2 separate regions of the Homo sapiens genome follow, and region 1 is linked to region 2. Evidence: fine-mapped expression QTL. A gene starts in region 2. The other region holds a variant in brackets. All regions are shown on one strand. Distances are between the middles of the regions. Region 1 overlaps PNPLA6 (patatin like domain 6, lysophospholipase). Region 2 holds the start of PNPLA6 (patatin like domain 6, lysophospholipase).

What was found.
Region 1: its variant is fine-mapped to the expression of PNPLA6 in lung (TOPMed, PIP 0.97).

The regions. Positions count from the first base shown.
Region 1 is chr19:7,557,845-7,563,215 of GRCh38, forward strand. PNPLA6 (patatin like domain 6, lysophospholipase) reads left to right here. Exons shown (of 32, transcript NM_001166114.2): 28 at 1,006-1,307; 29 at 2,804-2,920; 30 at 3,170-3,266; 31 at 3,364-3,473; 32 at 3,644-3,920. The coding sequence ends at 3,718. Among named protein-coding and RNA genes, the nearest start is that of PNPLA6, 25 kb to the left of the region's middle. The variant G/A (reference allele first, on the strand shown) is at 2,636.
Region 2 is chr19:7,533,071-7,538,441 of GRCh38, forward strand. It overlaps PNPLA6 (patatin like domain 6, lysophospholipase), which reads left to right and starts at 2,647. Exons shown (of 32, transcript NM_001166114.2): 1 at 2,647-2,950; 2 at 3,121-3,203; 3 at 3,379-3,476. The coding sequence starts at 2,719. It overlaps MCOLN1 (mucolipin TRP cation channel 1), which reads left to right. Exons shown (of 14, transcript NM_020533.3): 13 at 453-583; 14 at 689-939. The coding sequence ends at 725. RefSeq lists an enhancer at 2,482-2,721.

The sequences.
Region 1 (5,371 bases), 25 kb after region 2:
CAAGTGGATGTACGTACAAGAGGGACAGGTGCACACGTCCACACACACATCAGGGGACATGCAGGTGGAATGCAACACTCGTGTGCACACCAGCTATATATGCACATGCTTTCTCTCAGGGGCAGGTAGGGCTTACACACACGTGTACACACAGGCACATGTGCACAGATGAACACGTGTGTCAGTGAAATAGGGCATTTGCCAACGCATGCCAGTCTGTCCCGTTTGTCCTGCACGTTCCCTCAAACACGCAGGGATGTGCACACACGTAGATAGGATGCGGCACCTCTGACCGAGTTAAGTCATGCCTACCACCTTTATGGGTGCAGGTGAGAAGCGGGCAGGTACACAACTTAAAATCTCACACCCCAGAAGTGTGCATATATGAACAGACATGTACGCCAACTGCACACATGCTCACAATCTTGTAGGCCAGGGGTGGGCAAACTATGGCCCACAGGCTGAGTCCTGCCCTCTGTTTGATTGTATAAATAAAGCTTTATTGAGCTGGGCACAGTGGCTCATGCCTGTAATCCCAGCACTTTGGGAGGCTGAGGCGGGTGGATCACTTGAGGTCAGGAATTCGAGGCCAGCCTGGCCAACATGGTGAAACCCGGTTTCTACTAAAAATACAAAAATTAGCTGGGCGTGGTGGTGTATGCCTCTAATCCCAGCTACTTGAGAGGCTGAGGCAAGAGAGTTGCTTGAACCCGGGAGGTGGAGGTTGCATCGAGCCCAGATCGTGCCATTGCACTCCAGCCTGGGCGACAGAGTGAGACTCTGTCTCAGAAAATAAAACAAAACCTCCCAACACCTGACCCCCCTCCTCAACTTCAGTTGCATCATTTGCACGTCTGTGCATGACAGCATGGTGTTTGCATGTGTGGGTATTCTCTCTTTTTTTTTTGCGTGATCATTTGCATGATGGCATCTGTGGGACTGGGTTGAACATCTCTGCCCCGGGCCCCCGAGGGGAGCAGCCCGCTGACCCCCCTGGCCCCACAGCGGACATCGCCCGCAGCATGGGTGCCAAAACGGTCATCGCCATTGACGTGGGGAGCCAGGATGAGACGGACCTCAGCACCTACGGGGACAGCCTGTCCGGCTGGTGGCTGCTGTGGAAGCGGCTGAATCCCTGGGCTGACAAGGTAAAGGTTCCAGACATGGCTGAAATCCAGTCCCGCCTGGCCTACGTGTCCTGTGTGCGGCAGCTAGAGGTTGTCAAGTCCAGCTCCTACTGCGAGTACCTGCGCCCGCCCATCGACTGCTTCAAGACCATGGACTTTGGGAAGTTCGACCAGATCTATGTGAGTGGGCAGGAGTGGCATGGTGCCTGCATAGGTGGTCCGGCTAAGCTTTGCTACTTAAAGCCCAGAGTGGTATGAGGGGGAGGAATCCAGGAGGAATCCAGGAATCCCATCTGGAATCTCTGGAAAACAGATCAGTGATCAATTGGTGATGTCTGCAGGGGATGTAGTAGGGGTGTGGCTGTGCATGTGCTGTGTAAGAACTTTCTCCTTATAGGCCAGCTGCACCCCTGGAAGCACTGTATAGTGATTTCTACTGCCATTTCTGCATTGGTGGGAATGAGAATAGTGATGAAGCAGAAATGTCTGCCACAGTTCCAGGAGAGGGAGGTAGCAGTGCGTGTGTTATGTGCTACTGACCCTGAAAAATGTGCCATAGCCCAAGCCAATTGAAATTGATCAGGGGGCCAGGCATGGTGGCTCATGCTTGTAATCCCAGCACCTTGGGAAGCTGAGGTGGGAGGATTGCTTGAAACCAGGAGTTCAAGACCAGCCTGTGCAACATAGCAAAACCCCATCTCTACAAAGATTAAAAATAAAAAATTAGCTGGGTGTGGTTGTGCATGCCTGTCACCCCAGCTACTTAGGGGGCTGAGGTGGGAGGACCGCTCGAGCCCAGGAGTTTGAAGCTGCAGTGAGCTATGATTGCGTCACTGCACTCCAGCCTGGGTGACAGAGCAAAACTCTGTCTCTAAGAAAAAGAAAGGGCCAGGCATGGTGGCTCATGCATTTAATCCCAGCATTTTGGGAGGCCGAGGTGGGCAGATCACTTGAAGTCAGGAGTTCAAGACCAGCCTGGTCAACATGGTGAAACCTCATCTCTACTAAATATACAAAAATTAGCTGGGTGTGGTGGCACATGCCTATAGTCCCAGCTACTTGAGAGGCTGCAGCAGGAGAAATCGCTTGAACCTAGGAGGCAGTGGTTGCAGTGAGCCAAGATTGTGCCACTGCACTCCAGCCTGGGTGACAGAGTGAGACTCTGTCTCAAAAAATAATATTAATTTTAAAAATTAAAGATAAAAATAATAAAAATTTTTTTAAAAAGAAAGAAATTGATCAGTAGCTGCAGCCCAGAAGCCCTGAGTCTGAGAAGAGATGTGTGATGTCCCTTGTGGGCTCACTGGGATAGCATGCCATGAGAAATTCAAGATGTTTGCTGTGGGCTTGGGGATGGCGACATCCACAGATGTACTGCCTGTTTGCAGACTTCAAAATAAGCTCACACATCACCACCTTGTGTTATTTGCTACCCAGCACCCTGCATGGGGCTGTGTGGGAAAGAACATGGAGAGATTGATTGGTAATGTCTGTCAAGGGCAGGACAG[G/A]GGATGTGTAGGCGAGTGTGCTATGTGCAGCTGACTCTGAAATAGGTTTAGTCTCAAATGCAACTCCCCCAGAGAATCAGGCTTTTGAGGGGCCAGAGAATGGGCAGACAGAGTGGGGACAAGCAAAGCAGGGTTGCAGACATGGACCCAGCCCCTCATTTCCCACAGGATGTGGGCTACCAGTACGGGAAGGCGGTGTTTGGAGGCTGGAGCCGTGGCAACGTCATTGAGAAAATGCTCACAGACCGGCGGTCTACAGACCTTAATGAGAGCCGCCGTGCAGACGTAAGCCTGTGATGCCCCCAGGGCCACTCTGACTCCACTGATTACAGAACCCAAGCCCCCTTAAAGTCTCCCCGAAACCTCAGATGACCCCACATGTCCCTGGGTTTTGCTGAGCTCTCAGACCTCTGCTGACTTCAGAGAGTTCCCACCCTAGGATCTCCTCTGAGCCCCCAATGCACCACTGGGCCCCCCAGGGGCCCCAAGACTCTGTGGGCCCCCCCTAAGAGCCTCACCAGTGTCACCCCACAGGTGCTTGCCTTCCCAAGCTCTGGCTTCACTGACTTGGCAGAGATTGTGTCCCGGATTGAGCCCCCCACGAGCTATGTCTCTGATGGCTGTGCTGACGGTGAGGGGCCCAGGGGACCCCCCAAGAGGGAGGGGAGTGGCTGGAGATGGCAGGCCAGCCCCAATCCCCTCACCTGTGCCCTGCTCCCCGATTCCAGGAGAGGAGTCAGATTGTCTGACAGAGTATGAGGAGGACGCCGGACCCGACTGCTCGAGGGATGAAGGGGGGTCCCCCGAGGGCGCAAGCCCCAGCACTGCCTCCGAGATGGTGAGAGTGGGTGGCCCAGGGTCCCCTCACATCCCCCAGAGGGTCATGAGTACAGTGTCAGGCAGGGGAGCCGGGGGCGTATTTGAGATCCTGTGTGTGCTGGGTGCTGGCTGACATGTGACGCATCAGTGTCCCGTGCTGGGTGACGTGTGTGTGACCTTCCCTCGCAGGAGGAGGAGAAGTCGATTCTCCGGCAACGACGCTGTCTGCCCCAGGAGCCGCCCGGCTCAGCCACAGATGCCTGAGGACCTCGACAGGGGTCACCCCCTCCCTCCCACCCCTGGACTGGGCTGGGGGTGGCCCCGTGGGGGTAGCTCACTCCCCCTCCTGCTGCTATGCCTGTGACCCCCGCGGCCCACACACTGGACTGACCTGCCCTGAGCGGGGATGCAGTGTTGCACTGATGACTTGACCAGCCCCTCCCCCAATAAACTCGCCTCTTGGAAATGGCTTCCTGTCGTTTTCGGACTGGGGACCCACCTTCTGTGCTCAGGATGGCTGGGGCTGGGGTCTGACACCACCTGGTGCTTGCCCCCCACAGGGAATGCCTTTCTAGAATCCACACGGAGCCCCACTAGGTGCTTGTCCCCACTCTGCCCCTTCTCTGGCTCCTCAGAAGCCAGTGCTGACTCCGGACCACAGGGCCAGACATTCCGTGCCACCCTCCCGGGCTCACAGGTGCTCTTGGGGGCCCGATATGGCACCCCTCAATTTCTTTCTGTGTGTTTTTTGTTTTTTGTGTTTTTTTTTTTGAGATGGAGTCTCACTCTGTCACCCAGGCTGGAGGCTGGAGTGCAGTGGCATGATCTCTGCTCACTGCGACCTCCATCTCCCGGGTTCAAGCGATTCTCCTGCCTCAGCCTCCTGAGTAGCTGGGATTACAGGCGCCCGCCACCACACCCAGCTAAATTTTGTGGGGGGGTTTTTTGGTTTTGTTTTGTTTTTTGTTTTAATTTTTGAGACAGTGTCTCTCTCTGTCACCTAGGCTGGAGTGCAGTGATGCGATCTCAGCTTATTGCAGCCTCCAGCTCTTGGATTCAAGTGATTCTCATGCCTCAGCCTTCCAAGTAGCTGGGGCCACAGGCGAGCACCACCATGCCTGGCTAATTTTTGTATTTTTTGTAGAGAAGGGGTTTCACCATGTTGGCCAGTCTGGTCTCAAACTCCTGGCCTCAAGCCATCCACCTGCCTCAGCCTTCCAAAGTGCTGGGAATACAGGCATGTGCCACCACACCTGGCCTTAATTTTTGTATTTTTAGTAGAGACGGCATTTCATCACGTTGCCCAGGCTGGTCTCAAACTCCTGACCTGAAGTGATCTGCCCGCCTTGGCCTCCCAAAGTGTTGGGATTACAGGCATGAGCCTCCTTGACCGGCCAGAACGGTTTATCTTTTTTATGAGTGAATAATATCCCATTGTGTAGATGGACCACATGGTATTTATTGGTTCATCTGTTGGACGCTTGAGTTGCTTCCACCTTTTGGCTATGGGGAGTCATGCTGCTGTGAACACAGGTGTACAACTATCTGGATCCCTGCTTTCAACTTCCTTGGCTAGATGCCCGGGAGTGGAATTGTTGGGTTACATGGAGATTCTGTGTTGAATTGAAGAAACGCCAAACTTTTCCATAGCGGCTGCACCATTTTAAATTCCCACCGACTGTCAGTGCCTCGAGCTGTCAGCACCATGGACAGGGATGGTGCTGTCCGAGGTGCTACTGACGCCCCCTCTGTGTCTTTCCCTCCAAGCCCCCCCACCCCCGCCGATATCCCTGCGCCCTCCAGATCTCTGAGTTTTGAGGGTGGAGGGGGACATTTAGGGGAAAGTTCAGTCCATAGTTTGGCACCTACTGGTGTCTGTATCTTAACTGGCTCCCCTTCCATCCTGGCTCACAAGGC
Region 2 (5,371 bases):
GATTCAGCTGTCCCACAGACACATTGACTCAGGCCCTTGGAACTACTTCCTGTCTTGCCTTAGCACGTAGACATCACACACATGCATCCACTCAGGTGGGCAGTCTCAGGCCCTGCTCCCACTGCTGTGCTCAGCGTGCATCCAGCTCACTCAATAGATGGTTTCTGAGCATCGAGGTCATGTCAGCCCTGGCTCTAGGTCTGTAGGTGCTGGACCTACAGCAGAAGGCAAAGACACAGACTGGCAAAGACACAGCTTGTATCCAGGTTCAGGGGTCAGGGAAGGTCCCTCTGTGCAAGCAAACTGTGGAACAACGGGTGGAGCAGGCCCAGCAAGTGCAAAGGCCCGGAGGTGGGAAGCGATGCAGATATGGCTGGAGGGGAGGGCGGACTTCAAGGGCCTTGGAGGTTGGGAGCCACTTTCAGGCTGAGCCTCCCGGCTTCTCTCCCCAGCATCCCGGCGGCGCAGGCGCAGAGGAGAGCGAGCTGCAGGCCTACATCGCACAGTGCCAGGACAGCCCCACCTCCGGCAAGTTCCGCCGCGGGAGCGGCTCGGCCTGCAGCCTTCTCTGCTGCTGCGGAAGGTTCGAGTCCCGGGTCTGGCACATTCAGATTGGAGGTTAGGGAATGGGGAAAGGGGAGCGAGCCAGAGAAAACTGACGCCCCTCTTCCCTGCTTCCTTCCTCCAGGGACCCCTCGGAGGAGCATTCGCTGCTGGTGAATTGATTCGACCTGACTGCCGTTGGACCGTAGGCCCTGGACTGCAGAGACCCCCGCCCCCGACCCCGCTTATTTATTTGTAGGGTTTGCTTTTAAGGATCGGCTCCCTGTCGCGCCCGAGGAGGGCCTGGACCTTTCGTGTCGGACCCTTGGGGGCGGGGAGACTGGGTGGGGAGGGTGTTGAATAAAAGGGAAAATAAATGTGTCGTTTTCATTTTTAGCGGGAGGAGCAGTCCTTGCGTTAAGCGGTGTGAGGCCCTTTAAGGCGCGGCCACACTCAGCATGGCGGCCTCAGTCGGCCTTCCAAGCATGGCGCGGGGAGGAGGGGTGGGAGGGTCGGGAGGGACTGCGGTGCGACTAGGAGTGAATAATTTAAAGGGGCCGTGCCTGCGGAGCCGGGCGGAACGCTAGCGGTGTTGGCGCGGAGTGGACCCCGGCTGCGGCCCCTGGGTGAGTCTGGGTTTCCGTTAGCCTCGCAGGGGTGTCCCTTCGAGGGTCGTTAGCGAGCCTCCGCTTTCCCACGATCTGTCCTCCGATTCCTGTTAACTCTAGACTTTCTGATGTTCCCATACCCCCCACGTCTCGGCAGGTGTTTCCACACCGGTAGCCAGCTGTGCCCTGAGGTGGAAGAGGACCGGCCACCCAGGAATTTTCCAAGTAACGACTCGGAGTCTCCGGGATTCCTATCTCCCGGCCCCCGAATTTCCATTAATATTCTAGCGATGTCAGAAACATCCTCAGCTTCCCAGAAAAATCCCAGTAATATTCCAGCATCTCTCAGTATCTTCCAAGGAGCCCGGACGCCCTCCCCAGGCCCGCTCTCATAAGCACCCCAGGAATGTGCCCACCCACCTCCTGGTTTTCCCAGCAGTAGTATTGTAATCCTCAGAATCTCAGTAACTTTCCAGTGACCCCGCATCCCCACCCACTAATCCCAGCGTCTCTGGTTACGCCTCCCAGCAATGGCGCCACCATCGGTCCCGGAGTCCCAGTGATGCTCTGTGCCATAGAGCCCCCATAACTTCACTACTACGTGATAGTAAATCCCCGGCAAAAACCAGCAGCGCCTTGCAAGCCCACGCCACCCCAAGCATCCCAGGACTCTTCTGAAACGTGGGTATCAGACGCCTTCCGCGGATGCCCCGGCAGTACTCCCGTGCCTCCCAGCTCCTGGGTCTTCCCCGGGGCAGGCTTGCGTCGGGAGCCGAGTATCTAGGTGCCCACTCCCGGACCCCACGGTTTGCGGGCCCGTTTTCCTGGGGTGGGGCATTCAGTCTTCGACGGAGTAGGGGGTGCGGCCTGGGGGGTGGGGTGGTCAGGCTTGATCAACCCTGCAGAGGGCAGTGACCCGGGAGGAAGTCACCAGGTGCAGAGGACCGTGCCCTGTGGGGACCTGCCTGCAGGCTGCTGACAGTGGGTACCAGGTCGGCCTTTGGCCCCGGGGTGGGGTTGGACAGGCGGGCGTCTGGTAGGCCCTACGCGTAGGCGAAGGGAGCAGGAAGCCGGGGACCCGCCTCATCTCCTGGCCAGGGCCGAGAGGTCGGTTTGCTCCATCCCTTAGTCCCGCAGCGCCCCTCTAGCCTCGCCCCTGGCAGCTGGAGACGCTTCCCCCGCCACCCCAGAGGGCAGGGCTTGAGCTGGGGGCAGGGCTTGAGGCAGGGGAGAGGTGGGCCCAGATTGACGACTTGCACGGGTTCCTTCGACTCCTTGATTTCCCAGGACTCCGGGCTACCAGATCGGCCGTCCAGCTGGAATCAACCGATGGAGGCTCCGCTGCAAACTGGAATGGTAAGGGGTGGGGCGGAGACCGGGTAGGTGCCGGCGTGGGGCGCCAAGAGGACTACAACTCCCGGCGTGCTCAGCGCGCATTACGTGGTCTGGCGATAACGCGCTGCGTCCGCTCGGGCGGAACTACGTTTCCCGGCATGCACTGCGGGCCGCCGGGCCTCAGGGAAGAGTCGCGCCCCCGGGGAGGGAGCAGCACTGGCCCATTCTGCAGATGGGGACATCGAGTCACGGGCTGGCTACGAACTCCTCGGGGGCGAAGGTGGCGGAGAGGGATGGGTTCCAGGACGTCCTGGCGCCCGGGGAAGGCTCGGCGGGACGGATTTGCGGTGCGCAGCCAGTGCCGTTCGTCCCTCAGGTGCTTGGCGTGATGATCGGGGCCGGAGTGGCGGTGGTGGTCACGGCCGTGCTCATCCTCCTGGTGGTGCGGAGGCTGCGAGTGCCAAGTGAGCACCCGAGGGGCCCCTCTTGGGAGGCTGTATGGTGGGGGGCCCAAATGCCCGGGTCCCGAGGCGGCAGAGATGGGGATTTGCTGGCGTCTGTTCGCGGTACCCCAGCTCTGGCAGGGTGGAGTCTGCACAGAGCTCGGAGTGCCCCTGTCCCCACCTATCCCCAGAAACCCCAGCCCCGGATGGCCCCCGGTATCGGTTCCGGAAGAGGGACAAAGTGCTCTTCTATGGCCGGAAGATTATGCGGAAGGTGAGTCCGGGACCCCTGGGGTCCGCCCTGACCACACAGAGGCCGCGCCCCTTCCCTATTTACACTTCTTAGTGTCCGCCACCGCTCCTTCCTTGATGGAGACCCCCTGGATCCGTCTGCCTCTTCTCCAAGGTCTGAATTAGCAATTCACCCATCTCCGCCTTCATTCTCCCAGGTGTCACAATCCACCTCCTCCCTCGTGGATACCTCTGTCTCCGCCACCTCCCGGCCACGCATGAGGAAGAAACTGAAGATGCTCAACATTGCCAAGAAGTAAGGCTGTGCTGGGTGTGACCTGGTATTAGGGGTTATCTCAGGGGCCTTTTGAGTAATCAGCTTACACCAAAGTGTTGTGGAAGTCTTCCCATATTGGCTGCGCGCTGTGGCTCATGCCTGTAATTCCCAGCACTTTGGGAGGCTAAGGCGGGCAGATCACCTGAGATCAGGAGTTTGAGGCCAGCCTGGCCAACATGGCAAACCTCATCTGTACTAAAAATACAAAAATTAGCTGGGCGTGGTGGCATGGGCCTGTAATCCCAGCTACTCAGAAGGGTGAGACAGGAGAATCACTTGAATCTGGGAGGTGGAGGTTGCAGTGAGCTGAGATCATGCCACTGCACTCCAGCCTGGGCAATAGAGTGAGACTCTGTCTCAAAAAAAAAAAAAAAAAAAAAAAAAAGAAGAAGAAGAAGAAGAAAGTCTTCCTGTTTCAGAGAGACATCTCTGGACTCTCCTCTCAGAGCTCTTCCACACCAGACATGCTGTCTCTAGGGTATCTCTTCCCTGAGGGCTACCTCAGTGACCTTCTCCTTCCACTGGAGTATCTGAGCTATTTGTTCCCAAGTCAATATCTCAGAGGTCTTGCCATATACTTAGTGGGGGGGTCTACATCAGGGGTTTCCATGTAGGTTATTTCATGAGTCTCTTCACATGAGTGGTTTTCTTCCAGGGTACCTCACTGAGGTAATTGTGTTTCTACGATCTCCTAAAGGGGCTATCTCCAGCCTCCAGCCTCTCTTCTCCGGGGGTTATCTCAGGCATCTCTGTACATCAGAAGGCATCTTTCCTATGTTATGGACCTTGAAGTTCTTCCCACACTAAGGAGGCTGTCTCAGGAGTTTCTGTTCCCTAGGGGCTATCTTATGAATTTTCTTGCACTAGAAATATAGGAAGGATGCATCAGAGATCCCTGTTGGCAGCAAGGTCTGCGAGAAAGGCTCTCCAACTCTCTTTGCAAGTTGGGTGCTGGCTCTGGGATCCCTGTGCGTCATGTAGTCTACCTGGAGGTCTGCCTCAAGGGTTTCTTCACACCAGGGCAGGGCTCTCCATGATCAATAGTCCTGCAATGGCAGTCCTTTCTTTTTTGTTTGTTTGTTTGTTTGTTTTTGAGATGGAGTCTTGCTCTGTCACTAGGCTAGAGTGCACTGGCACGATCTCGGCTCACTGCAACCTCCACCTCCTCGGTTCAAAAGATTCTCCTGCCTCAGCCTCCCGAGTAGCTGGGACTACAGGCTCATACCACCATGCCCAGCTAATTTTTGCATTTTTAGTAGAGACGGGGTTTCACCATGTTGGCCAGGATGGTCTCGATCTCTTGACCTTGTGATCCGTCCGCCTCGGCCTCCTAAAGTGCTGGGATTACAGGCATGAGCGACTGAGCCCGGCCAATGGCAGGGCTTTCTGTGAGTTGAGTAGAAGGACTATCTCAAAGTTCCCCATGATCAGTTGAGGGTCTATACCTCAGGTTTCTCCACATCACAGGAGCTGTCTGTAGTGTTTGCACACTCTTAAGGGACTACCCTGATATCTTCATGATTGTCAGAGGGCTGTCTGAGCTTTCTGTGACCTAGGGAAGAGTTAGCCCAAGATCTCCCTGATCAAAAAAGGAATAATCATAACAATTATAATTATTATTATTATTTTGGAGACAGGATCACACTTTGTTGTTGAGGCTAGAGTGCAGTGGCACAATCACAGCTCACTGCAGCCTTTACCTCCTGGGCTCAAGAGATCTCTCCTGCCTCAGCCTCTTAAGTAGCTGAGACCATGGGCATGCACCACCATGCCTGGCTAATTTTTAAATTTTTTTGTAGAGATGGGAGTCTCACTGTGTTGCCTGGGCTAGTCTTGAACTCCTGGCCTCAAGCAATCCTCCCACCTCGGCCTCC